Homo sapiens: one gene and its partners. The protein of the gene in region 1 interacts with the protein of each later gene in a pairwise test. Each region holds a gene or a part of one and is shown in the gene's direction. Other genes may lie near its edges.

Region 1 (3,353 bases):
TGATGGAGGAGTGCCCCAGAAGCAGAAGTGGGGCTGAGGGTCCCGTGGGAAGTGCCCTGCGGAGCACAGGCTCCTGCCCGGCTCCTCGCTTGCCTCTGCCCTCTGCTCACTGGCCAGCTCTCTGTTCTCTTCATTCCAGGCACCGCCACCCCCACCTTTGGTCTGAACACCCCTGCGCCTGGAGTGGGCACATCAGGCAGCAGCCTCTCCTTTGGGGCATCCTCAGCACCCGCCCAAGGCTTTGTTGGTGTTGCACCTTTCGGTAAGCAGCAAGCCACCCTGTGGCCCTGCTCATCTGTCTGAGGAGGGGTTGGGCGGGGTGGCAGGTTCCTGGTCCTCTGAGGCCCGGTGAAGATCAGGTTCAGCACAGGAAAGACATTTCGGGTTAGGAGTCCAGCACAACCCAGGGATGGGAGTTGGATGGCAGAGATCAGAGAGGAGCTGTCCGGGGTGGAAGTTTGCCTCCCATGGGAAGCCAGGTAAAAATGGATTCTTGGGCCTCGCTCTGAGACTCTCTGGGAGTTTGCATTTCAGGAGGCTTCTCCCGTACAGTGTTTCTGATGCAGCGGGGAAAGCCCTATTGAGGCACCCTGTGTTTTATTACTGGCCTGGCCTTCCAGAGATTTGGGCACCCAGAGTCAGAGTCTCAGGTAGCAGCTGCCCTGATGAGGTCTTGTTGAATCTTTCCAGGATCGGCGGCCCTTTCATTTTCCATTGGTGCGGGATCCAAGACCCCAGGGGCTCGACAGCGACTGCAGGCCCGAAGGCAGCACACCCGCAAAAAGTAGCCTTTGTCCCCTGTCCCTGTTCCCCCCACCCCTTCCCTAAATCTGGACCTTGGCACCTGCTAGGAAGAGCCTTGGACCCTTCCAGTTGCGTAAAGCAAACCTACCCCGGATCTCTGGCTTCAGCCGCCAGGGGGCAGTGGCAGCCCTGGGGCCCTTTCCCTTCTGGAGGAAGCACAAGCCTCAGGGAAGGGGAAGCAGGATGCGGAGGGCCAAAGCCCGGGACCTCTACTTGAACAGTTCTACTGGGGAGGCTGGAGAACTAAGGAAACACCTGTACATAGTGTCCGCTGCCCTGACTCCCGCTTAGCACACCCTTAGGCAGGCGCCCCTTCCACCTTTCCCCGAGACCGTCGTCGCTGGAGGGGGCAGGGTCCAGCCCGCCTGGATCGGTGGTGTGCACCTGATGGGATTTGGGAAATGGGCTATCCGTAAAGCTTTATCTTGCTTGGCTTAGCTGTGAGAAGTGGTTCTCTTCCTCTGGTCCCTTCTGGGGACTCTGTTTCCCCATTTCTTGCTGCTGTGTCCCTCACCAGTTCCTTGCAGGATTCCTTCGTTTTTAAATGCCCTTGAATCTAGCTTTGCCTTGGAGACCCCAGTGGGTGCTGCTCCTGCCGTTTTCTTCCTGCCAAGCCTGAATCAATGTTTCATCTCCAACCCTCTGCCAGTTTGGCCCCTCAGAGCTTGGTGGCTCAAGACTGTTAGCCTGGCAGAGCCAGGGGTGAAGGGAGAAGCTCTTGGAGCAGGCAGGATGCCCACCGCTGCTTCAGCTGCCTCCTCGCCCAGCTACCCTTTGGCCCCATTGGGCCCTCGTCTGCCTCTCCAGGATTGTATGTTTCAAGCCTTGTCCTGTGTTCCTTTGTCTGATGCTCTGTGTATTGCTCTTTGAATCGAGTTTGGAGGAAGAGTTGAGTTGTATGAGTGGCGGCATGTTGGTAGTGCCGGACTTCCTGTTTCAAGTTTTCTGGGGCCTCGCTAATTGAATGTGGAAAGTAGCACCACTTGACGGCTACAAGTGCCGACTCCTGAATTTTCCCATGGTGTTCTGACTTCAAGGGCTGGCAGCCAGGGAGAATGGGCCCAGGGGAAGCAAAGACCTCTTCCCTCTGCCGTTTCTGTCCCACTTAACTGACCTCACTGGAGGCTACATCACCCAAAGTAGATGTTAGAAAACCTAAATTAATGAACCATATTTTTAAAATCCTATTTTTCCCAAACAGGGCCCTCTGCAGCCCATCCTTTCCTTCCGTCCTTCTGAAACCACATACCCCAGGCCCAAGCGCCTTGCTGCCACGCCCAACCTCTTTGGGAGAAGTATGAATGCGTGTGTCTAAATTAAAAGAAAAAAATATTTAAACGTTTTTTAACAAAAATTTATTTTTGTATTTAAGCTAAATTGCCTTTTAAATTCCTTCAAGCTTGGTTCATTGAGGTGGTTAAGTATAAATGCTATTAACTAGGAATTAGCTGTATAGTTAAGTTATGCCTGTGCAAAGAAGAGGCTCAAATGCTGTCCCCGGCAGCTTTCCTGGGGGACTAGAGCTCCTTCTGGCCATGTTATATGAAATGTAATTCTTATTTTATAAATAATGTGATGTAAATGTAACTGGTGCCCCCTCCCCGATGTGACTGAGGGTGAGTGAGTGGTGGCGGGGCTGCTCCTTCCCACCCCTCAGAACAGCTCTGATCCTCGTTAATACCTGGCTGCGTGTGCAGCTGAGGAGGGAGTGAACCTCAAGCCTAAATACCTGTTAGGATTGGAGGGTCTGGGTGGGCCTGGGCCTAGCAATCAAGCTTCTACCTGTACCTTATGTAAGGTAGACCCTCCTAGTGTCAGTACCTGAGCTAGTTTACCTCAGTTCCGCAGGCAGGACAGCCGGTCCGGGAACCCTGAGTGAGAATGAGTGTGGATGTGTACAGTACACGCACTGGACGGCAGCGGGAGGCTGGGACTTTCCATTACAAATAGAGACTTCATTCCTGTTGAGTCTAGTTGGAATTTTTAGTATGAATGTGAGATTTTTCTCCTGCTTGTGACATTAAGAATAAAAAACTGTGATCTATCGTAGAGTACGTTCTGCATTTTATTTCTGCAGGCAACACTTTTGCTCACCAGCAAGAACACAGCCCGAGGAAGGGACCCAATAACCTTTCAAAACGCAAACTGCTGCCTGCGGTGAGGGCCCAGGGTCTTCCACGGAGAGGACAGGCATCTTCCTTTCCCACCAGGAAGGAGTGAGCCCGGAGCCTCTGCTATGTGCAAGGCGGTGTGCAAGCACCGGCTGCAGCTTTTTGCTCTCTTCTTTCTCTTTGGGGCTGGGCTGGGTGTGCGTTCTGGTGCTGATGCTTTGGCCTGTGAGGCTGAGCTAGAGAAATGTAGATGTTAGATGTGCCAGTACCATCCTGCGCCTCCCAAGCATGCCCCCACTCACTCACGTCGGCATCTCGACCCGTTCAATTACAGCAACGAAGAAGCCACCGCTAAGCGTGGTCTTGGGGGAAGCCCGGAGGCAGTGCTCGGCACCCGGGAACGTGCTCAGGCCTCGGTGGGGCCGGGCAGGCAGGGCG
Region 2 (3,500 bases), on another chromosome or scaffold:
CAGGAAGGCCAGTCCTCATATCTCAGCTCCACTGTGCTAGCCAGAGGACCATGGGCAAGGGACTTTACCCACTGCGCCTCAGTTTCTCCCCTTCAAAATGGAGTCAATCAGCTGGGCGTGGTGACTATGCCTGTAATCCCAGCACTTTGGGAGGCCAAGGCGGGTGGATCACTTGAGGTCAGGACTTCCAGACCATCCTGGCCAACATGGTGAAACCCCGTCTCTTCTAAAAATACAAAAATTAGCCGGGTGTGGTGGCATGCCTGTAATCCCAGCTACTCAGGAGGCTGAGGCATGAGAATCGTTTGAACTCAGGAGGTGGAGTTTGCAGTGAGCTGACATCACACCACTGCACTCCAGCCTGGGCGACAGAGCGACACTCTGGTCTCAGAAAAAAAAAAAAAAAAATCAAAATGGGGTCAATAGCATCATCTACCTCCCAAGATTGTTGTAAATAAGATAATTCATGTCAGGTGTTTAGAACAGTGCCTTGAATGCATGTGGGTGCACGGTACATGTCAGCTGTTCTTATTCGTGGTACCTACTATAACACTAAAATTATGTAAATATTTTAAAAAGAAAGAGTTAAGGACGAAAGCAGTACTGACAGAGCATGTGCTTTGTGTATCAGGTGCTGGGGGAGGCTCTCTGTAATCCCTGTCTCCCTAATGTCCAGATGACCCTGCCCAGTCAGCCTTCCTAGTCCCATGTCACTCCAGGTTGAGGCTGTGGAGTTCAGACATGGTTCCCTGTGGCAGAGCTCACACTGGTAGCCCAGTCTTCCTCTCTGAGGTCCTCTTTATCATGCTACCTCCCTGCAAAAACCGTGTCTCATCATGGAGGGCTACATTTGGACTATAAGTCTGGATTCAGAGAGTGGCACCTTAAAATTTTGAGACGTGTTCCAGGTCAGGTGAGCCTCAAGACGAGGGGAGGAGAGGGATAGTATTAGGAGAAATACCTAATGTAGATGACAGGTTGATGGGTGCAGCAAACCACCATGGCACGTGTATACCTATGTAACAAACCTGCACATTCTGCACATGTACCCCAGAACTTAAAGTATAATAAAAAATAAATAAGTAATAAAAAAATAAAAAAAGAAAAGTGTAGTTTTTGGCACAGCAGAGATAATATATCCAAAATGACAGATGGGGAAACAACTCTGTATACTATAAAAACAATCCCAACTTAGCTTATGAGAGACCATGAGCTGTGGTTGACAGAGCATAGAGCCAGAAATTGTGGGTTTGAGTCCTAGCATTCTCTCTCTATAGCAGGATGAGCCTGCACAAGTCAACCTCCGTCAGGGCAGAAGCCTCCAGGAAGCACTCAGGCACTGGAGTCAGGCAGACCTGAGCTCAAACCCCCATCTCCTTCCCTTCCCAGCTTCATGACCTTGGGTCAGTTAGTTGACCGGGTGAGCCGCCTTCTCTCCCTTTGCCCTCCTGACACTTACTCTGCTATTTTCCTCCTATCCCCAGGCTTCTTTGCCACTGCCTCCTCAACATCCCCCCACCCCCAGTTATTCACGTTGAGGTTCCCGGGGCTCTCTGGCTTAGGCATTTTCTGTTTTCATTCTATATGCTCTTCCTGAACAAGTTGATACACTTCTAAGCCTTCAACTACCATCAGCTTCTAAATTGAAATCAGAATCCCTGAGCCTAAGATCCCTGCATCAAGCTTCCCTGACACCTGTATTGGTCGTTCTCAACTTGTTTGCACTGAATTCATTGTCACCCCCACCGTGATGGCTGCCTCACTGAATGTCATGCCCATCCACCTAGGTAAGCCTAATCCTCCCTTCCCCTGCCCCCTAAGTGCAATGGTCCTATGGATTTTACCTCTGAAATATAGACTTTATTTGTTTATTCAACAAATATTTATTGAGCACTTCCATGTGCCAGGCAGCATTCTCTTCATACTCTTTGCCACTGCCCTGTTCCAGCCCTCCATCATCTTTCCCCTTGATGACCTGACTCCGGAGATCCCCACTTGGCGCCCTTGAGGTCATTCTCCATTCTGCAGTCACTTCCATCTTTTTTTTTTTTTTTTTTTTTTTTTTGAGACAGAGTCTTGCTCTGTTGCCCAGGCTGGAGTGCAGTGGTATGATCATAGCTCACTGTAACTTTGAACTCCTGGGCTCAAGCGATCCTCCTGCCAAGTGATCTGGCCTCCTAAGTAGCTGGAACTACAGGAATGCGCCACCACTCCTGGTTAATTTTTTTTTTTTTTTTAAGTTTCTTGTAGAGATGGGTGTTGCCATGTTGCCCAGGCTCATCTAGAACTCCTGGCCTCAAGCAACCTTCCCTCCTTAACTTGGGATTACAGGCGTGAGCCACCATGCCCGGCCGCTTACATCTTTTAAAGTGTGAATCTGATTGCCTCCCTCCCGCCCCGCCCCTTGAGTGCTCCCTATACCCTCAAGATAAGGTTTCAAATTCTCAGAAACAGTGACATTCTCTGGCTCCTGCTCATGTCCCAGCCTCATCCTAGGCTACCCACCCTTCTCGGTTTTTCTCTCTCCCCTCTTGCGATACTTGCTTTCTTTCTGTTTCTCAAAGAGACCACACTTTTTCCTGCCATTCTCTCTGCCTGGAATACTTTAACCCTCTTACTTCACCCAAATAACTCCTTCCCGTACTTCAGTTCTCAGCTCAACGTCCTGAAGCTGGGAGCCCCTTCCCTGAATTCCCACACTAGGTAAGGTCTCCCTGTGGCATATCACAGCAGCCATGACCTCCTCCCAGGGCTTGGATCGTGAGTGTTCAGCTCGTCTTCCCAAGCTGTGAGCAACATGAGGGCAGGGCCCTAGCACATTGTCTGGCATACAGTGGGTACTCGTTAAAGAGTTATTGTCAAACAGGGATAATGATACTGACATCACAGTGCAGGGTGAAGTATGTGCTTAGGGGAGTTAAGGCAATGACATTAAGAAATATTTCCTAAGCTCCTACTGTATGTCAGACGCTGGCTGGACCCAGGGAGACCAGAGTTAAGAGGACATCATCTCTCCCTTCAAAGAGCTGCCAGTCTAGCTGCAGCTTGAGAACCTTGCAAATCACTCCTCCCGAATTAGTTATGATGGGAGGCCTGGACTTTGCCATGGGCTCTTCACCCCAATTAAGGCTGTAGGCAAAAAGCCCTCAGCCTTAAGCCTTAGCTCTCACACAATGGCTGGTTATGCTAAAGCTAAGCCTCTGCCAGTCTCGTGGTGGCATTTCCCGAACCTGCCTGGCTCTCCCCGAACATGCCTGGCTCTCCCCTACTTCTCCTGTGACCCTCAGAAGAGCAGCTTGATTCTAAGTAGCTACTTCCTTCCCTTGTCACTCCACACTTTGCCTCTTGGGGCTGGCATTGTTAGGGCAACTCGCCCTGCCTGCAAGGCAGGGTGAGGGTTAAAAGTGCCCCGCGACCTCTTCGAGCATCTGTGAGATGGGCATTGGCATGAGGCTTTGGTGAGAGAATGGCTGTAAAGTGCTTGACATGGAGTAAGTGCT
Region 3 (3,500 bases), on another chromosome or scaffold:
TAAGAAAGCACTTATCGATGATAAAACTCTGTACAAAGTTAGATGGGATGTTGAGGATGATAACTGAATTGTTCTTTCAAAATTTAAGGGGTTTCTATTAGGATTTCAGTACTGGAAAATATTACCAGAGAAAAGAGTTCCTGGGCGTGAAATCTGAGTTAGCGTAGAGTCAGACTGCAGTCTCCATGCAGGTTGGTTCTCTCTTCAGCCTCTCTTCTGGCCTCTGCACCAAGCAGCCCTTCCTCTGGTTGCCCGCCTGTACAATGCCCGTAAATTAAATTTTACGCTGGTTATTCTTTAAATTCCACTAACCCATATCCATTCTCTGCCCTACTCTATGCCCTGGGAGCCTGACCTCTATGGACTACACAACCTCTATGGACTCCATTGCTCTCTGGCCTTGGTTGGGTTTGGAGAGTGGAAGGCATAGTAGGGGAGTGGAGAGTAGGAGGAGAAAAAGGCTGGGGTACTGATTCTCTCTGCTGCCTCTCTGCCCCACCCCTGATCTGTCAGGAACAGTGTTCCTCTGTGGCCACAGCTCCTGTCAGGCAGCCTTCTTCCATAGTGCTAGCTCTTGCTGGGCCCTGGTAACCTTGTTTCCTCCCCTTGCTGTTTCAGGTGTAGGGATGGTAATAGTTTCTTGCTGTTGGTAGTCCCTGGTGTTTCACTAGGCTTTGTTGGTTTTACTCGTAGGGCTTTTCCCTAGCCCTTGTTGGTTTCTTAACCCTTCTACATGTCAAGTAATAATTCCACTAAACTATCTTCAGGCAATCTTATTGAGGGTGCCATCTAGTTCCACCTGGGCTCCTGACTAATACAATTCTTTGTGTTTCCTCTCTATACTCTACATCCTCCAACAAATTAAGCAGAGGCACATTCTGTCCTGAGCTGGGCCACACAGTTAAGAATTAGTAGGCCAGGTGTGGTGGCTCACGCCTGTAATCCCAGCACTTTGGGAGGCTGAGGCAGGCAGATCATGAGGTCAGGAGTTCGAGACCAGCCTGACCAATATGGTGAAACCCCGTCTCTATGAAAAATACAAAAATTAGCTGGGCGCAGTGGCTCACGCCTGTAATCCCAGCACTCTGGGAGGCCGAGATGGGCGGATCACCAGAGGTCAGGAGTTCTAGATCAGCCTGACTAACATGGTGAAACCCCGTCTAAATATACAAAATTAGCTGGGTGTGGTGGCATGTGCCTGTAATTCCAGCTACTTGGGAGGCTGAGGCAGGAGAATTGCTTGAACCTGGGAGGCAGAGGTTGCAGTGAGCCAGGATTGCGCCACTGCACTCCAGCCTGGGCGACAGAGTGAGACTCAGTCTCCAAAAAAAAAAATATGAAAATTAGCCAGGTGTGGTGGTGTGTGCCTGTCATGCCAGCCGCTCGGAAGGCTGAGGCAAAAGAATCACTTGAACCCGGGAGGCGAGGTTGCAGTGAGCCAAGATCGCACCACTGCACTCCAGCCTGGGCGACAGAGGGAGACTCTGTCTTTAAAAAAAAAAAAAATTAGCACAAGCTCAGATTCCTTAGCCTAGCTTTTTAAACACACACACACACACACACACACACACACACACACACAGAGCTTTATTGATATATACCATAAAATTCACCCATTTTACGTGTACAATTAAATTATTTTTAGCAAATTTACAGAGTAGCGCAACCATTAGCACAATCAAGTTTCAGAACATTTCCATTACCCCAAAGAGATCCCTTGTATCCATGCGCAGTCATTTCCCATTCCTGTTCCAGCCCCAGCAACCACTTCCTGTTTCTACAAATTTGCCTTCTCAGGACAGTTCATACAGACAGCATCATGTGTGGTCCTTTGCATCTGACCTCTTTCACCTAGGGTGATTATTTTGAGATTCATCCATGTTGTTGCATGTATCAACAGTTCATTCCTCTTATTGCTGATTAGCATTCCATTGCCTGGATATACTACAATTTGTCTATCCATTTATCAGTTGATGGACATTTTGGTTGTTTCTATGTTTTGTGTATTTTAAATAATGCTGATATAAACATTTACGTACAAGTCTTTGTGGGTAGGTACTTAGAAGAGGAATTTCTGGGTCATGTAGTAACTCTATGTTTAACTTTTTAAGGAACTACCAAACTGTTTCCACAGAGGCTGCACCCTTTTACATTCCCATTGGCAATGTGTGAGGGTTTCATTTTCTCCATATCCTTCCCAACACTTTTTATTTTCTGTATTTGATTCTAGCCATCCTAGATGCAGTGATATTTCATTATAGCTTTGTTTTGCATTTACCTAATTACTATGTTAGTATCTATACATGTGCTTATTATTCATCTGAATATCTTTTTGGAGAAATGTCAATTCAGATCTTTTGCCCATTTTTAAATTGGAATGTTGTAACAGTTTTTTGTATGTATTCTAGATACAAGTCCTTTATCAGATATATGATTTGCAAAAGGAACTCAAGCACTCTCCTTCTTCCTTCTGCTATAGATTTATTTTGCCAGTTGTGCATTTGGAACAGAGGACATTAGGACTTCAGGAGGCTACTTCCACCTGGCTAATATATTCTATGACCTTAAAAAGTTGGACCTGGCAGACACATTGTACACCAAGGTGAGCTGGGGAATGTGGGAGCTGAGCCTTCACTCTTAGGCTTGGTGTCTTACAACTTGTATTAGACTATTCATGAAAAACATACCATTCATGAGAAAGAGAGGCACAGAGAGATGAAGTGGCTTGCCCAAGACTATATAGCCTGATACATGATATACTCCATTTTCTTTCTTCCAGTGTCTCCACTACCAAAATAGACTAACCCTTAACATCCGTAGGGTGATTAACGAATAATGAAGGACAGGTCAGTAAGAGCCAAACCCCTTCAGATAGACTGTTGTATGCTGTGTCATACCCATAGCAGCAAGCTAATGTGGGCTTATTGAAGTGTGCGATAGAGAAGGAGATTTCCAAGGGAAGTCTGTTGCTACAAGATCCTGTCAAGGGATCCAAGAACATGAGAAATTTCCATATTTACATGTAAAATATTTTAAACTGTTTCCAATATATTAAAATGTCAGCTGTATCCATATAGTAACACCTCACTTAGCAGGCAATCATTTGTGTAATAAATGTGTAATACAGGCTTTCTGCTGATTGTTGATTCATGTTTTAGACCTGCTTCTGAGAAAGAGGCATTTTGCTGTAGTTTAAAAGCTTTAGAATCAGATAGACCAGGGTTTAAATTCTGGCTATGCCACTTAACAGCTCTTACCAGAAGTCGTGTGTGATCTTCTCTGAGCCTCGGTTTATTTACATGTAAAATGGGAATAATAAGAATATTACATCAGGATGTTGTGAGGATGTGAAGGTTTCGTGTTGTGTGTGCTATACAAAAGATAACCACTGTTATTAGACCCCACTAGGGCTACCCCAAGATGAGCTGCCACAGGCCCTTTTCAGCCCATCACTTGTCACACTTACCTTGGCCAGGCCTGTTTGGGCTCCTAGGGTTCCC
Region 4 (3,500 bases), on another chromosome or scaffold:
GCTTGAGGAGTTACATTCTTAGTTTTTCTTGAACCATCAACGGTGGTGATAAAGGAAGATGATACTCATTTTTAGAAATTCTTAAATATAAGTGTTCCTAAAATTAATTGGATGTTCTTAAAATTAATTGGATGCCTTGTTGGATATCTATAACCTGAATGAAGGAATTCTTTTCTCTTGCTATAGGTGCACATTAAAGATCCAAAGTCATGACTGACTCCAAGTATTTCACAACCAATAAAAAAGGTAAGTATGAGAATACAATCAAATCTTTTGAAATTTTCAAAAGTTGTAGTGTAAGATTGCCCCAGGCAGAATGCTGCTGACCTCTTCCTTCAGACATACATGTAGCTGACAATCTCACTGGACATCTACTACTTCTATAGATGAATGTATTCAAGCAAGTTATTAAAGAGTAGGTTTTAAAAGAGAGGGCTGTGATGCACATTATTATGACTTGAAGGTTCTGTTTAGTGAAAGAGACTCCTCTTTGCTGTTTGAGATGATCCATTGGAGATTGGTTAAGTGTGAGGAGGACAAAAGAAGCAGCATACTTTTTCCCTTTTATTAAATAATTTTTACTTGGAAATAAACATTTTATAACAAAGAATACAATTAAAGCAATACAGATATGTATGTAAAAGGTAAAAATGAAAGTTCTCCCTTCCTGTTCCTATTCCCAAGGGAACTTGGTGTATATCCTCAAGTCTTTTTCTCTGCATATGAGTGCATATATTAATACATATGATTTAAAATTTTTTTATCTTTAATGAAAAAGCAATCTTGCAAAACAATGAATAGAAATGAGTTATTTTCATATCCGTCCATATACATCTACCATGTTCTTCGTCTAGATGTATATTTAAAACGGAATCTCTAGAGCCATCTATGGTTTTTAGGTCATAGACGGAATTACTTGAGGGACTTTGCACTTATTACTCTCATCATCTTTGTTATCAGTAATATAATGCTTGTTTTTACCTATGAGTTTGGGTCTAGGAACAAAGGATTCTTCTGGGGAAAGTCCAACCCTTCATCTTTTGTAAAATTGTTCCTAAATAAAATAGATCATTTCTAGAAATGTGGAGGGTCTTCCCATCAAAGACAAACATTTTAGCCCATCTCAGCTTATTGTGCCTGTAGCTTAGCTTGCTTTATTTGTTGCTTAGGATCAGAATTCTGTGCTTTTGTGTTCAGGAGTCCTTACATTTACCAAAGTATTCCAGACATGGCGCCAACTACCATTCTTCTTTTTCTCTTGTTGCAGTGAGTTGCTTAATTATGTCAGTTTGTTGTCTGTAGCTTTCAGTCTTGGCAACACATCAGAATTGCTCAGCCAGGGAACTTTGAAATAATACTGATGCCTGGGTCTCAACCTCAGCCTGATTTCAGTTGTCCTGGATATGGTCTGGGTGTGAGGATTTTAAAGGTTCTCCAGGTGGCCAGGCATGGTGGCTTATGCCTGTAATCCCAGCACATTGGGAGGCTGAGACAGGAGGATTGTTTGAGTGCAGGAGTTTGAGACCAGCCTGGGCAACATGGTAAGACCCTATCTCTATGAAAAAAAATTTAAAAATTAGCCCTGTACGGTGGTGCACACCTGTAGTCCCAGCTATTTGGGAGGCTGAGGTGGGAGGATCACTTGAGTGCAGGAGGTTGAGGCTGCAGTGAGTCGTGATTGTGCCGCTGTACCCCAGCCTAGGCAACAGAGAGAGACCCTGTCTCAAAAGAAAAAAATTAAAAAGAAAGCTCCCCAGATTATTTTAATGTGCAGCCATGATTGAGAACTACTGCTAGCTGCTAACAGTGCTTGGTAGATTTGATTGGGGGGAGGAGGAGGGAGAAAATATAGGAATTTAATAAAGTTGTAGAATATATGACTTTGCCTCTTTTAGTACCCCTCTTTGGTCCTGCCCAACTTTTTCCTCCTTATTTTTATTACTTACACCTCACAAAAGCCATTAGCCACTTGTCATTCAGTCTCAGCTTTTTCTGATTTTCTTTTGGAAATATGTTTATTTCTTCTTCTGTTAGCATTTTGTGTGCTTTGACGAACAAAATGTCTATAATTATATAAAGGGATACAATTACAATTAAATAGTTATAATTTTAAAACTCTCCTAATTCTTCAAACCTACTCTTGAAAAGTGTCCTGGTGACCTTTTTTTAATTCAGGCATTTGTAAAAGTTTGAGACTGCAGATTGAATCACTGCTAATAAACATCATACTTAAAAAAAATTGATAGATTGTGTTCCCTGTACTTCCTGCAACACCCACCAGAACTGCCACTGAAACATATTCTTTAAATTTATGCTTTTGGAATTGGAATAATTTCTGTTACATCCTGCTTTGATTCTATAACACCTGCTGCTGTTCACAATTCAGACTTTCTGAAACCCCGCCGTTTGTCCTTCACTGTTCCCGGAAGTGAATGAGAGGAACTCTAAGAGCTGGATTTGGCAGGATGGGACATGGTGAAGAGTCCTATGAAGAATGACTCTTTAAAGGGCCCAGCTTTTCTTGCTATGCTACTTTTGTAGCTGTTGATTAAATAGAAATTTTGGAACAATTTTTTTGCCTTATTGGCCATGGATATTGAAACGAAAAAGTGCTCTACTTCTGTGTCTTACTAATTTCATCCTTTCCACATAATGGTTTCAGGCAAATCACGTAGTGTTTGTCCCCACTATTTCTTTCTTTTTTTTTTTTTTGGAGGAGGGGAGGTCAGGTTTTAATGTCCCAGTCCTCGGGCGCCGTCATCCCGCGCCTGCCAGGCCCGGCGGCCATGTCGCTCACTCGGGTGGCGGCCAGCCTGCCTCATCAGGGCCTTCCGCGGAGGCCGCCCCGTCGCCCTCGAGCACCAGCTTCACGTCCAGCTCCAGCTGCCCGGTGTAGAAGCCCACGGCGGCGCACACCCAGAGCGGGCTGGTGGCGAGTACAGCGCCCGCAGCTGCGCCCCCTAGCGTCAGCTGCATGGGCCCCCGCAGCGCTGCCAGGCCCCGCAGGCGCTGCCCCACACCGCACACAGGCCGCCCAGCAGGAAGAAGCCATATGCTGCTTCGTGATCCATGTCACTCTGCATGAAGGAGATAACCCCGATGCCCTATGCCAGGAGGCCATTGTGGAACCAGGAGAAGAAAGCTGTCTCGTGCGCCTTTCGGAGAGGAGCCTGGCGCCTGCACGGTCCAGCTCGGACACAGGTGGCGGCGAAGCCCCGTTGTGGGGGCCGTGGCCGGGGGCGAAGGACCCCTGGGCGCCCCCGCTCCGGGGCCACTGAGGCAGCAGTAGCGACCTCCGGAAGCGGAGACTGTCCCCACTGTTTCTATGCTGGTAAATGAGATCTGGTTGAAAGGAACGACAGGAACAGTCTTGAAGGTGGAGGAAAGTCTTTTGAGGCAGTATGGTAGATGAGCTGGAGGATGTAGATGGAAAGTTGAGATGGGAGTAGTCAACCTCTTTTTCATGGACTTAGTGTTTTTTTTCCGTTTCTTTTAAACAA
Region 5 (3,500 bases), on another chromosome or scaffold:
TTTTGTGTGCTGATGAGTTGATTCATGGCTAGCCCCTCTAGGTGGCTTCATGATTAGAGGGTTGGAACTTTCAGCCTCACCCCCACCAACTTCCTGGGAGGGGAATGGGGCCAAAGGTTAAGGCAATCACTGAGGATCAGTGATTTAATCAGTCATGCCTAGTAGTGAAGCCTCTAAAAACCGGAAAGGGGCCGGGTGCAGCGGCTCACGCCTGCAATCCCAGCACTTTGGGAAGCCGAGGCAGGTGGATTGCCTGAGGTTAGGAGTTTGAGACCAGTCTGGCCAGCATGGTGAAACCCCTTCTCTACTAAAAATACAAAAAAAGGGAGGCAGAAGTTGCAGTGAGCAGAGATCATGCCACTGCACTCTAGCCTGGGTGACAGACCCCATCTCAAAAAAAAGAAAAAAAAAAAAGAAAACCCAGCTGTTCTGCAAGCTTATCTAGAAGACGCTTATAGGTCATTGTAGATCTCTTCCCCTCCCCTCCTAATGTAGTGATTTTGAACACTCAACTTAGTTTATTTTTCCAACTTTCTCTTCTTGCCTGGTATAAATCCTTGGTATAATTCAGTCCTATCCAACTTGGAAGTGGGAAGTAGTGTATTTCAATCTAGGAATGTCTCCTTTCAGGTATTGTTTCTATTTGGTGCTTACAACATGGGATTCACTCCTCTAAAACCTTTCCTGTCTTCCTGCCCCTGAACCCAGGGGTTCCTCTAAGGACTGATTGAGAAATGAAGTGAAAGCCTGGTGTTCTAGAGGCATGTTTTCTGTTTTTCTTAACCCCTCACTTTTTTTTGAGACAGAGTTTTGCTCTGTCACCAGGCTGGAGTGCAGTGGCATGACCTCGGCTCACTGTAACCTCCAACTCCCTGGTTCAAGCAATTCTCCTGCCTCAGCCTCCCAAGCAGCTGGGATTATAGGCACACCCCACCAAGGCCAGCTAATTTTTGTATTTTTAATAGAGATGGGGTTTCACTATGTTGGCAGGATGGTCTTGATCTCCTGACCTTGTGATCCACCTGCCTCAGCCTCCCACAGTGCTGGAATTACAGGCGTGAGCCACCGCGCACAGCCTACCCCTCACTTTTTACTTAAGTTGTTGAGTTTTATTTGGGGATGAGTTGATATTTGTTTGATTAAGGTAAGAGTTCCTTACACTTGCATGTACCTTGTGAGAAGTACTTTCACACCAGCCTTGTCTAATCCTCTTGCTAGTCTTGAGAATAAGATAAGTTGGATATAATCACTTAGCAGATGACACAAGAGGCAGAGTATGTTTTGTTTAAGATCACACAGATAGATACTCTTAGGGACAGATACTGTTAGGGCCAAATCCAGAACTTCGGTGTGTCCCAGTCCAAACTCTGCCCTCTTTACCTTTCCTCCCCCACAAACCACTGGTATTTGGAAGGAGTGGAATTAAAAGTTCCTGACCTTGGCCGGGCGTGGTGGCTTATGCCGGTAATCCCAGCACTTTGGGAGGCTGAGGCGGGCGGATCACCTGAGGTCAGGAGTTTGAGACCAGCCTGGCCAACATGGTGAAACCTTGTCTCTACTAAAAATACAGAAATTAGCCAGGCATGGTGGTGGACACCTGTAGTCGTAGCTACTCAGGAGGCCGAGGCATGAGAATCACTTGAAGTCGAGAGGCGGAGGTTGCAGTGAGCTGAGATCGCGCCACTGCACTCCAGCCTGGGCGACAGAGCGAGACGCCATCTCAAAGAAAAAACAAAAAGTTCCTGACCTTTCCACACAGGTCCTCGTGGTCCGCGGACTCCAGAGTGGTTCTAGCTTTCTATTAATATCACACAGTTTTCCTTATTTAAGTTATGCAAAGGGTCGTGTGCCTGGGACTGTGAGATTCTACCACCATGATTCCTACAGTGACTTTTCCTTTCAGACAAGCAAGCAGTTGGCAGCAGCCTTCCAAGAGGAGTTCACAGTGCGAGAGGACCTGATGGGACTGGCAATTGGGACTCACGGTGCCAACATCCAGCAGGCCCGAAAAGTACCTGGGGTGACCGCCATTGAGTTGGGTGAAGAGACCTGCACTTTCCGCATCTATGGGGAGGTCAGCAAAGGATGTCTTTCTTCTGGGTCTCTTAGGGGATAGAGGGAAGAGAGGCCGAAGTAGAAAATAAGCCTCAAACTGGGCACAGTGGCTCACACCTGTAATCCCAGCACCTTCGGAGGTCAAAGTGAGAGGATCACTTGAGCCTAGGAGTTTGAGACCAGCCTGTGCAACATAGTGAGACCCAATCTCTACAAAAATTTAAAAATTAGCTGGAAGTAGTGGTGCGTACCTGTAGTCGCAGGTACTTGGGAGGCTGAAATGGGAAGATAGAGGGGAGGATCACTTGAGCCTGGGAGTTGGAGAACAACCTGGACAACATAGAGAGACCCTGTCTTTACCCCCCAAAAAAACCAAAAACCAAAAAACGTTAACTGAGCGTGGTGGCATGCATCTGTGGCCCCAGCTACTTGGCTACTTGGGAGGCGGAGGCAGGAGGATCACTTGAGCCTGGAAAGTCAAGGCTGCAGTACACCATGATGGTGCCACTGAACCAACCTGGGCAACATAGTCAATAGAGTGAGACCAAAAAATCAAAAAAATAGACCAGATCTCTGTTGCCCAAGCTGGTTGTTAACTCCTAGCCTCAAGCAATCCTCCCTTCTTAGCCTCCGAAACTGTTGAGATTATGGGTGTGAGCCGCTGTGCCTGGCCAAGGTCCTCTGTTTTTTTTTTTAAGTTATTTATTTGTTTAATTTTTTTTTTTTATGAGATGGAGTCTAACTCACTCTGTTGCCCGGGCTAGAGTGCAGTGGCACAATCTCAGCTTATTGCAACCTCTGCCTCCTGGGTTCAAGAAATCTCCTGCCTCAGCCTCCGGAGTAGCTGGGATTAGAGACGTGAGCCACCAATTTTGTATTTTTAGTATTTTAGTATTTTTGTATTTTGATTTTTGTATTTTTAGTAGAGATGGCGTTTCACCATATTGCCCAGGCTAGTCTTGAACTCTTGAGCTCAATTTATCCACCTGCCTCCAGCCTCCCAAAGTGCTGGGATTACAGGCGTGAGCCACCACATCCAGCTGGTCTTCTGTTTTAGTAACAACTCCCTGCTGTTCTTCCTTTAGACTCCCGAGGCTTGCCGACAGGCCCGAAGCTACCTTGAGTTTTCTGAGGACTCAGTGCAAGTGCCCAGGAACCTGGTTGGTGAGTTGGTGGTGTGTATATACAGTTAGAGGTCAGAATCAAGATTCTCTACAGTGATTCTGAGCTTTTATCCAGGATTGGCACCTCCCTGTGGACTCCCAGTTTCACAAGGACAGAGAAACAGTCTGTAATGGGAGTGATAAAAATGAAAGAATAAATTTCTAGGGATTGTAACATTTTGTCCTGTAAAAACACATCAGAAACCTAGAAGCAGGAGAATGAAGTAAATGGAATCCATATAAAGAAAATGAGGCTGGAAGACGGTGTATCAGCTTTATTCT
Region 6 (3,500 bases), on another chromosome or scaffold:
ACGTTTTAAGCTTCTGAGATTTTCAGAATAGTAATTGAGCATTGACTTCAACTTAAAGGCCCCAGCTGCATTAGCCCATAACAAGAGAGTCAGCCTGTCATTTGAAGCTTTGAAGCCAGGCATTGACTTCTCTCTAGCTATGAAAGTCCTAGATGACATCTTCCTCCAATGGAAAGCTGTTTCTTCTACATTGAAAATCTGTTGGCTAGTGTAGCCACTTTCATTAATGATCTTAGCTTGATCTTCTGGATAACTTGCTGTAGCTTCTGCATCAGCACATGCTGCTTCACCTTGCACTTTTTTGAGACAGTGTCTCACTCTGTCACCCAGACTGGAGTGCAGTGGCACGATCTCGCCTCACTGCAGCCTCTGTCTCCCGGGTTCAAGTAATTATGGTGCCTCAGTCTCCTAAGTAGCTGGGATTATAGGTGTGTGCCACCACGCCCAGAACATTTATGTATTTTTATAGAGACAGTGTTTCGCCGTGTTGGCCAGGCTGGTCTCGAACTCCTGACCTCAAGTGATCCGCCCACCTCAGCCTCCCAAAGTGCTGGGATTATAGGCATGAGCCACCACACCCGGCTTCACTTTTTTTTTTGAGACGGAGTTTCTCTCTGTTGCCCAGGCTGGAATGCAGTGGCGCGACCTCAGCTCACTACAAGCTCGGCCTCCCGGGTTCACGCCATTCTCCTGCCTCAGCCTCCCGAGTAGCTGGGACCACAGGCGCCCGCTACCACGCCCGGCTAATTTTTTTTTGTATTTTTAGTAGAGATGGGATTTCACCATGTTAGCCAGGATGGTCTCGATCTCCTGACCTCGTGATCCGCCCATCTCAACCTTCCAAAGTGCTGGGATTACAAGGCGTGAGCCACTGTGCCCAACTTTTTTTTTTAAGATAGGGTTTTTGTCTGTCACCCAGGCTGGGGTGCAGTGGCAAGATAGCACACTGCAACCTCTAATTCCTGGGCTCAAGGGATCCCCCCACGTCAGCCTTCTAAGTAGCTGGGGACTACAGGTGTGTGCCACCACACTCAGCCAATTTTAAATTTTTGTGAGACAGTGTGTCACCATGTTGCCCAGGCTGGTCTTCAAGTCCTGTCCTCAAGTGATCCTTATTCCTCAGCCTCCAAAGCCACTGGGATTACAAGCATGAGTCACTGAGTTTGGCCTCCACATTGATGGCTTCTTTCCTTAAACCCTTTCTTTTTGAGACGGAGTCTCACTGTCGCCCAGGCTGGAGTGCAGTGCCATGATCTCAGCTCACTGCAACCTCTTCCTCCCAGATTCAAGCGATTCTCCTGCCTCAGCCTCCCAGGTAGCCAGGATAACAGGTGCCCGCCACCACATCTGGCTAATTTTTGTATTTTTAGTAGAGATGGGGTTTCACCATGTTGGCCAAGTTGGTCTCGAACTCCTGACCTCAGGTGATCCACCTGCCTCAGCCTCCCAAAGTCTTGGGATTACAGGCATAAGCCACTGCGCTCGGCTCCTTAAACCTTATGAACCAGTCTCGTTAGAGCCTGGCTCTGGATTAGGCTTTGGTTTAAGGCAGTATTGTGGCTGATTTGATCTTCTGTCAAAACCACTAAAAGTTTATCCATATTGGCAATAAGGCTGTTTTTTCTTTTCTTTTCTTTTTTTTTTTTTTGAGACAGAGGCTGGAGTGCAGTGGCCCTATCTTGGCTCACTGCAAGCTCCGCCTCCCGGGTTCATGCCATTCTCCTGCCTCAGCCTCCTGAGTAGCGCCCGGCCGGTTGTTTTTTTTAAACATTTGTGTGTTCACTGGACTAGTACTTTTCATTTCCTTCAAGATCTTTTCCTGGCCAGGTGCAGTGGCTCATGCCTGTAATCCTAGCACTTTGGGAGGCCCAGGCAGGCGGATCACCTGAGGTCAGGAGTTCAAGATCAGCCTGACTAACATGGAGAAACCCTGTCTCTACTAAAAATACAAAATTAGCCGGGTGTGGTGGCACATGCCTGCAATTCTAGCTATTTGGGAGGCTGAGGCAGAAGAATCGCTTGAACCCAGGAGGTGGAGGTTTCGGTGAGCTGAGATCGCACCATTACACTCCAGACTTGGAAACTCCTTCACAACAAAAAAAAAGAACTTTTCCTTTGCATTCACAGCTTTGCTAACTGGCGCAAGAGGCTTAGCTTTCACCATATCTTGGCTTTTTGACATGCCTTCCTCACTAAGCTTAATCATTTCTAGCTTTTGACTTAATGTGGAGACATGCAACTGCCCCTTTCACTTGAACAAATAGAGGCCATTGTAGGGTTATTAATTAGCCTCATTTCAATATTGTTGTATCTCAGGGAATAGGGTGGGAGAGAGACTGTGGAATGGCTTGTTGGTGGAGCAGTCAGATCATACACAGTATTTATCAGTTAAGTTCTCCATCTTATATGACCATGGCTCATGGCACCCCAAAACAGTTGCAATACTAGCATCAAATATCACTGATCACAGATCACCATAACAGATAAAACAAAAAACAAAAGTTTGAAATATTACGAGAATTACCAAAATGTGGCACAAAGTGAACACATGCTGCTGGAAAAATGGCACCAGTAGACTTGCTTAACATAGGATTGCCACAAACCTTCAATTTGTTTTTTTTTGTTTTTTTTTTTTGAGACGGAGTTTCACTCTGTCACCCAGGCTGGAGTGCAGTGGCACGATCTTGGCTCACTGCAACCTCCACCCTCCGGGTTCAAATGATTCTCCTTCGTCAGCCTCCTGAGTAGCTGGGACTACAGGCGCCTGCCACCACGCCCGGCTAACTTTTTGTATTTTTAGTAGAGATGGGGTTTTACCATCTTGGCCAGGCTGGTCTTGAACTCCTGACCTTGTGATCCACCCGCCTCGGCCTCCCAAAGTGCTGGGATTACAGGCGTGAGCCACTGCGCCCGGCCCAATTTGTTTTTTTTTTTTTAAAAAAAACACACATTGGCTGGGTATGCTGGCTGACGCCTATAATCCCAGCACTTTGGGAGGCTAAGGCAGGTGAAACTCTTGAGCTCAGCAGTTTGAGACCAGCCTGGGCAACATAGTGAGACCCTGTCTCAAGACAAAAACAATAACAACAATAAAAAAACACACAGTATCGGTGAATCACAGTAAAATGAGATATGCCTGTACTTTATATATTCATTTAATTCTCAGATTCTCATGTTTTAGTTGAGAAAACCAAAGGATGGAGAGGTTTCAGTAACTTGGGCAAATTCATAGCTAATACATGGAAGAGACGCTTACTCAGTATGATTCTAATCAAAATATGGGCTGTTTGTACATAAGCATTCCTGAAGTAGCTAAAGCAATCTCTTCCCCACCCATCTTTTCCTATAGAAATCTCACCTGTTTTTCTTTTCTTTTTTTTAATTTGATATGGAGTTTCGCTCTTGTTGCCCAGGCTGGAGTGCAGTGGCACAATCTCCGCTCACCGCAACCTCTGCCTCCCAGTTCAAACTATTCTCCTGCCTCAGCCTCCTGAGTAACT
Region 7 (3,500 bases), on another chromosome or scaffold:
TTCTCCGAGATCAGTTAGGCTCTGATATACCCCAGAAGGTCAGGCTGTGGTTAAGCAGTTTCTCTTGAGGGCAAGACTTGTTAAGAACAGGGTGCTCTGGCATGTTTTAAAGTGTTTTGTTTCCTCTGCCCCCTGCAAGATGCATAAAGAGATTTTGCTCCAATATTCACTGAGTAGCTAACCAAGCTCCTGGAGGCAAAACTCACAAAACTGTGGAGGCCTCCTTATGACTGGGTCCTCCTGAGTCTTTTAATTCAGACTTGTCCACACTGAGCCTCCAGTGGTTTGTCAGTTACGCTTCAGGTTTTCCTACTCCAGCATTGGTTCCCATGGTAGTTTCCACTTTTGAATCTCTGCTCTAGTAAGCTATGACTCCCTATCTTCGCCCTTCTCTCCAATTTTTGTGGCAGTGGTTTTCCCTTTTTCCTCTCGTCTCTTATAGGTCCAAGAAGAGTTACTAATTTTTCAGTGTGTTCAGCGTTTTACTTGTTAGGAGAAACTGGCAACTTCCAAGCTCCTTACATGCATAACTAGAAACCGGAAGTTCTCTTTTAAATTTTATATGCTTAAAGAAGCTTGACAGAGGGGTCAGGAAACCTGGGTCTACTCTTTTCTTCATCTGTAAAATGATGTGTCTGTACAAGATAAGTTATTTTTTAAGCTGCATTCCTTAGAACCGTGGAAATTTTGTGGCACTGCATCAGGGACTTCCAGGAAGGTGAAACTCCAAGCCTCCACCCACTCCTCGTTCAACCACAGCAGCTCAACTTTTATCTTTTATCTTTTCTTGTATATTAGACTTTTATACAACTTTATTTGAAATAAGGGTTCTAGTTCCCCCCTTCAAAAAAGCTTATAAATCACAGAGATCACCAGCTGCTCTCAAGTGTTATGACCCTACAATATAAAACCTTGTCATTGAAATCCTTTGCTGAGAGTTTATGAAGAAGTAGAAGAGAGAAAAAATATGAGGGCACTGGGAATGAGTAACTGTATCCTACAGTGGGGAAGAAGATTGTTGAAATGGTAGATTGGAGTCCTGAGCAAAAAACTTCACAATTTTGCATTTTCTTAGTTCAATTCTCAGGCACAAATAGTGTCCCTTTTTAGTTATGTTTTATAGTAAAGATTTGGAGCAGTTGGAAAATATCCTTTTCTTTATTTTTAGGAAGAAAGAAATGGATCGACTTTTGACTTGCCTGAATAGAGGTAAATATCTCCCTGGTTATATTCAGTCCTTCATCTTGCCTCTATTCTCTGTTGAATTCTCCAAGTACACTAAGCACAGCAACTTTAACCTTATGTTTGAGTTAAGCTTCATGCTCCTTATTAATCTTTGCCACAGGAATCTATTTTGGTTTCTTCATTCACAAGCAGAGAAAAGTGTGTCATCATTAGCATTCATCTCCAAATGTGATTTCAGTTCTGTTTTAATTCCTATTTGTTTTAAGGACATTTCCTTCCCTCCCTCCCTCCCGTCCCTCCCTCCCTCCCTCCCTCTCTTCCTTCCTTCCTTCCTTCTTTCTCTCCTTCCCCCTTCCCTCCCTCCTTTCCTTTCCTTCTCTCCCTTCCTCCCTTCTCTCCCTCCCTGTCCCTCTACCTTTCTTTTCTAGTAGCCACTTGATCCTAACCTAAGAATTGAACAGGTGAAAAAAGATCAAGACAAATAAAAATACTCTGAACCCTGCTGTTTTTTTCATACCCTCTGAATCAAATTCAGGTTGCATATTCTCTTATTTTGAAGCTGTCCACCCAAGTCTGTGCCATCTCCCTTATCTACTAATAATTTTTCCCTGTCCACTTTATTCAAGCTAATCTCCTAGTTGTATCACATTTTTTTTCTAACTACATGCTTTTTTACATGGCATCCCTTTTAACAGATCTCCCATTTTTACTGTCCATGTACCTCTTTCCTTATGTCCAAAACACACCAAAAAGTTCATATCTTAGAAATTCTATCCTGCTCAGTGCAGTAGTTCAATTTTATACCTCAAATACCTGTCAGCAGGGTGTTAAACATAGCAAAGTGGTTTAGAAACCAGACCACTTCTTTTCAAAAGAGAAAAACTTTGCTGGTTGGCATTCTTATTTCTCAGAAAGAGAATGCCTTCTGATAGTGATAGCACATTCTGGTTCTGTCCTGAGCTTGCTGGCTCAGTAAATATTATGCCAGCATATTGATACCCTTCTAATTTTCAATCTCCAGTTCAGTCTTTTAAACGATTGTTTCTATTTTTTATTTCCTCACATGTAAATCATATCTTTCTACCTCAGGTGGTGAATGATTGCACTAATTAAAATTATAAATCTCTCCAAAGACATGTTTGTTCCCCAGAGTTTGAGTTAACAACTTCTTGGAACTTGGTAATGCTTTCTGTCATTTTAATTACTTTTGGTATGCACCCCTACACACATACACAAAAAAGAACTTTCTAAATTCAAACTCCTGTGAGACTGTTCTTAAAGCAGGATTAAACAATTTTGCTAGAGTATAAAATAAGACCATCAGTATCAAATTTTCCTGTTTGATGCAGCCTTTGTGAAACTTTCTCAGCCTTTTGGTGAAGAAGCCTTAAGTTTGGAGTCAAGAGCTAATGAAGCTCAGTGGTTTCGAAAAACAGGTAAGAGGAAATTCTGTGGCTCTGGGAAACATTGTGGGGTGGTGGAATTAGACAGATGTGATTTCAAATTCTGGATCTTTCATTTGTAGCTGTGGGTACAGAGATAACTTGCTTAATCTGTTTTATTACTTATAAAATGGAAATAGTTATATATACTTCATGCAGTTATTAAGGGTTTTAAATGAAACAGCATATATACTTTTTTCATAGTAGATACTCAATGGACATTAGTTGTGTCCCTTTTCTATAGAAATGGGTCTAAGATGAAACTAATGAACTGTAACTACAGGTCCTCAAGGTTGTGCTCCTAAACTTGGTTTAGAATACTTAATTTTTTTTTTTTTTTTTTTGAGATGGAGTCTCGCTCTGTCGCCCAGGCTGGAGTGCAGTGGCTTGATCTCAGCTCACTGCCAGCTCCGCCTCCCGGGTTCACACCATTCTCCTGCCTCAGCCTCCCTAGTAGCTGGGACTACAGGCACCCGCCACCACGCCCGGCTAATTTTTTGTATTTTTAGTAGAGATGGGGTTTCACCGTGTTAGCCAGGATGGTCTCGATCTCCTGACCTCGTGATCCACCTGCCTCGGCCTCCCAAAGTGCTAGGATTACAGGCGTAAGCCACCGTGCCTGGCCTAGAATACTTAATTTATTTCTGAGTGTGATTGACCAAAAATGAACTATATACAACAATATGGATGAATCTCACAAACATAATGTTGAGCAAAAGAAGCTAGATATTGAAGAATACATATTGTGTTGTTCATTTTATTTATAATTTTTTAAATGGGCAAAACTAATATATGGTGTTATAAGTCAGGATAATGGTTACCCTGGAAAAGGAGTTGGACTTGAAAGTTGTAGGAGCTTCAGGGTTTCTGGTA

Evidence for each region.
Region 2: the proteins of POM121 (region 1) and MORN5 interact in binary tests that used the Homo sapiens proteins (3 or more experiments, as listed by UniProt).
Region 3: the proteins of POM121 (region 1) and ZMYND12 interact in binary tests that used the Homo sapiens proteins (3 or more experiments, as listed by UniProt).
Region 4: the proteins of POM121 (region 1) and AP2B1 interact in binary tests that used the Homo sapiens proteins (3 or more experiments, as listed by UniProt).
Region 5: the proteins of POM121 (region 1) and FXR2 interact in binary tests that used the Homo sapiens proteins (3 or more experiments, as listed by UniProt).
Region 6: the proteins of POM121 (region 1) and KPNA6 interact in binary tests that used the Homo sapiens proteins (3 or more experiments, as listed by UniProt).
Region 7: the proteins of POM121 (region 1) and TEX11 interact in binary tests that used the Homo sapiens proteins (3 or more experiments, as listed by UniProt).

Annotation. Positions count from the first base shown.
Region 1 is NC_000007.14:72,945,447-72,948,799, forward strand, and holds the end of POM121 (nuclear envelope pore membrane protein POM 121), read left to right. Parts: intron 1-139; coding exon 140-262; intron 263-690; coding exon 691-788; 3' UTR 789-2,853; downstream 2,854-3,353. UniProt on the Homo sapiens protein: Essential component of the nuclear pore complex (NPC). The repeat-containing domain may be involved in anchoring components of the pore complex to the pore membrane. When overexpressed in cells induces the formation of cytoplasmic annulate lamellae (AL).
Region 2 is NC_000009.12:122,169,908-122,173,407, forward strand, and holds part of MORN5 (MORN repeat-containing protein 5), read left to right. Parts: intron 1-3,500.
Region 3 is NC_000001.11:42,435,523-42,439,022, reverse strand, and holds part of ZMYND12 (zinc finger MYND domain-containing protein 12), read left to right. Parts: intron 1-2,479; coding exon 2,480-2,602; intron 2,603-3,500. UniProt on the Homo sapiens protein: Required for sperm flagellum function and male fertility.
Region 4 is NC_000017.11:35,593,822-35,597,321, forward strand, and holds part of AP2B1 (AP-2 complex subunit beta), read left to right. Parts: intron 1-186; 5' UTR 187-209; coding exon 210-246; intron 247-2,711; exon of another isoform or gene 2,712-3,309; intron 3,310-3,500. UniProt on the Homo sapiens protein: Component of the adaptor protein complex 2 (AP-2). Adaptor protein complexes function in protein transport via transport vesicles in different membrane traffic pathways.
Region 5 is NC_000017.11:7,594,398-7,597,897, reverse strand, and holds part of FXR2 (RNA-binding protein FXR2), read left to right. Parts: intron 1-1,903; coding exon 1,904-2,074; intron 2,075-3,140; coding exon 3,141-3,219; intron 3,220-3,500. UniProt on the Homo sapiens protein: mRNA-binding protein that acts as a regulator of mRNAs translation and/or stability, and which is required for adult hippocampal neurogenesis. Specifically binds to AU-rich elements (AREs) in the 3'-UTR of target mRNAs.
Region 6 is NC_000001.11:32,114,556-32,118,055, forward strand, and holds part of KPNA6 (importin subunit alpha-7), read left to right. Parts: intron 1-3,500. UniProt on the Homo sapiens protein: Functions in nuclear protein import as an adapter protein for nuclear receptor KPNB1. Binds specifically and directly to substrates containing either a simple or bipartite NLS motif.
Region 7 is NC_000023.11:70,608,212-70,611,711, reverse strand, and holds part of TEX11 (testis-expressed protein 11), read left to right. Parts: intron 1-1,168; coding exon 1,169-1,209; intron 1,210-2,534; coding exon 2,535-2,621; intron 2,622-3,500. UniProt on the Homo sapiens protein: Regulator of crossing-over during meiosis. Involved in initiation and/or maintenance of chromosome synapsis and formation of crossovers.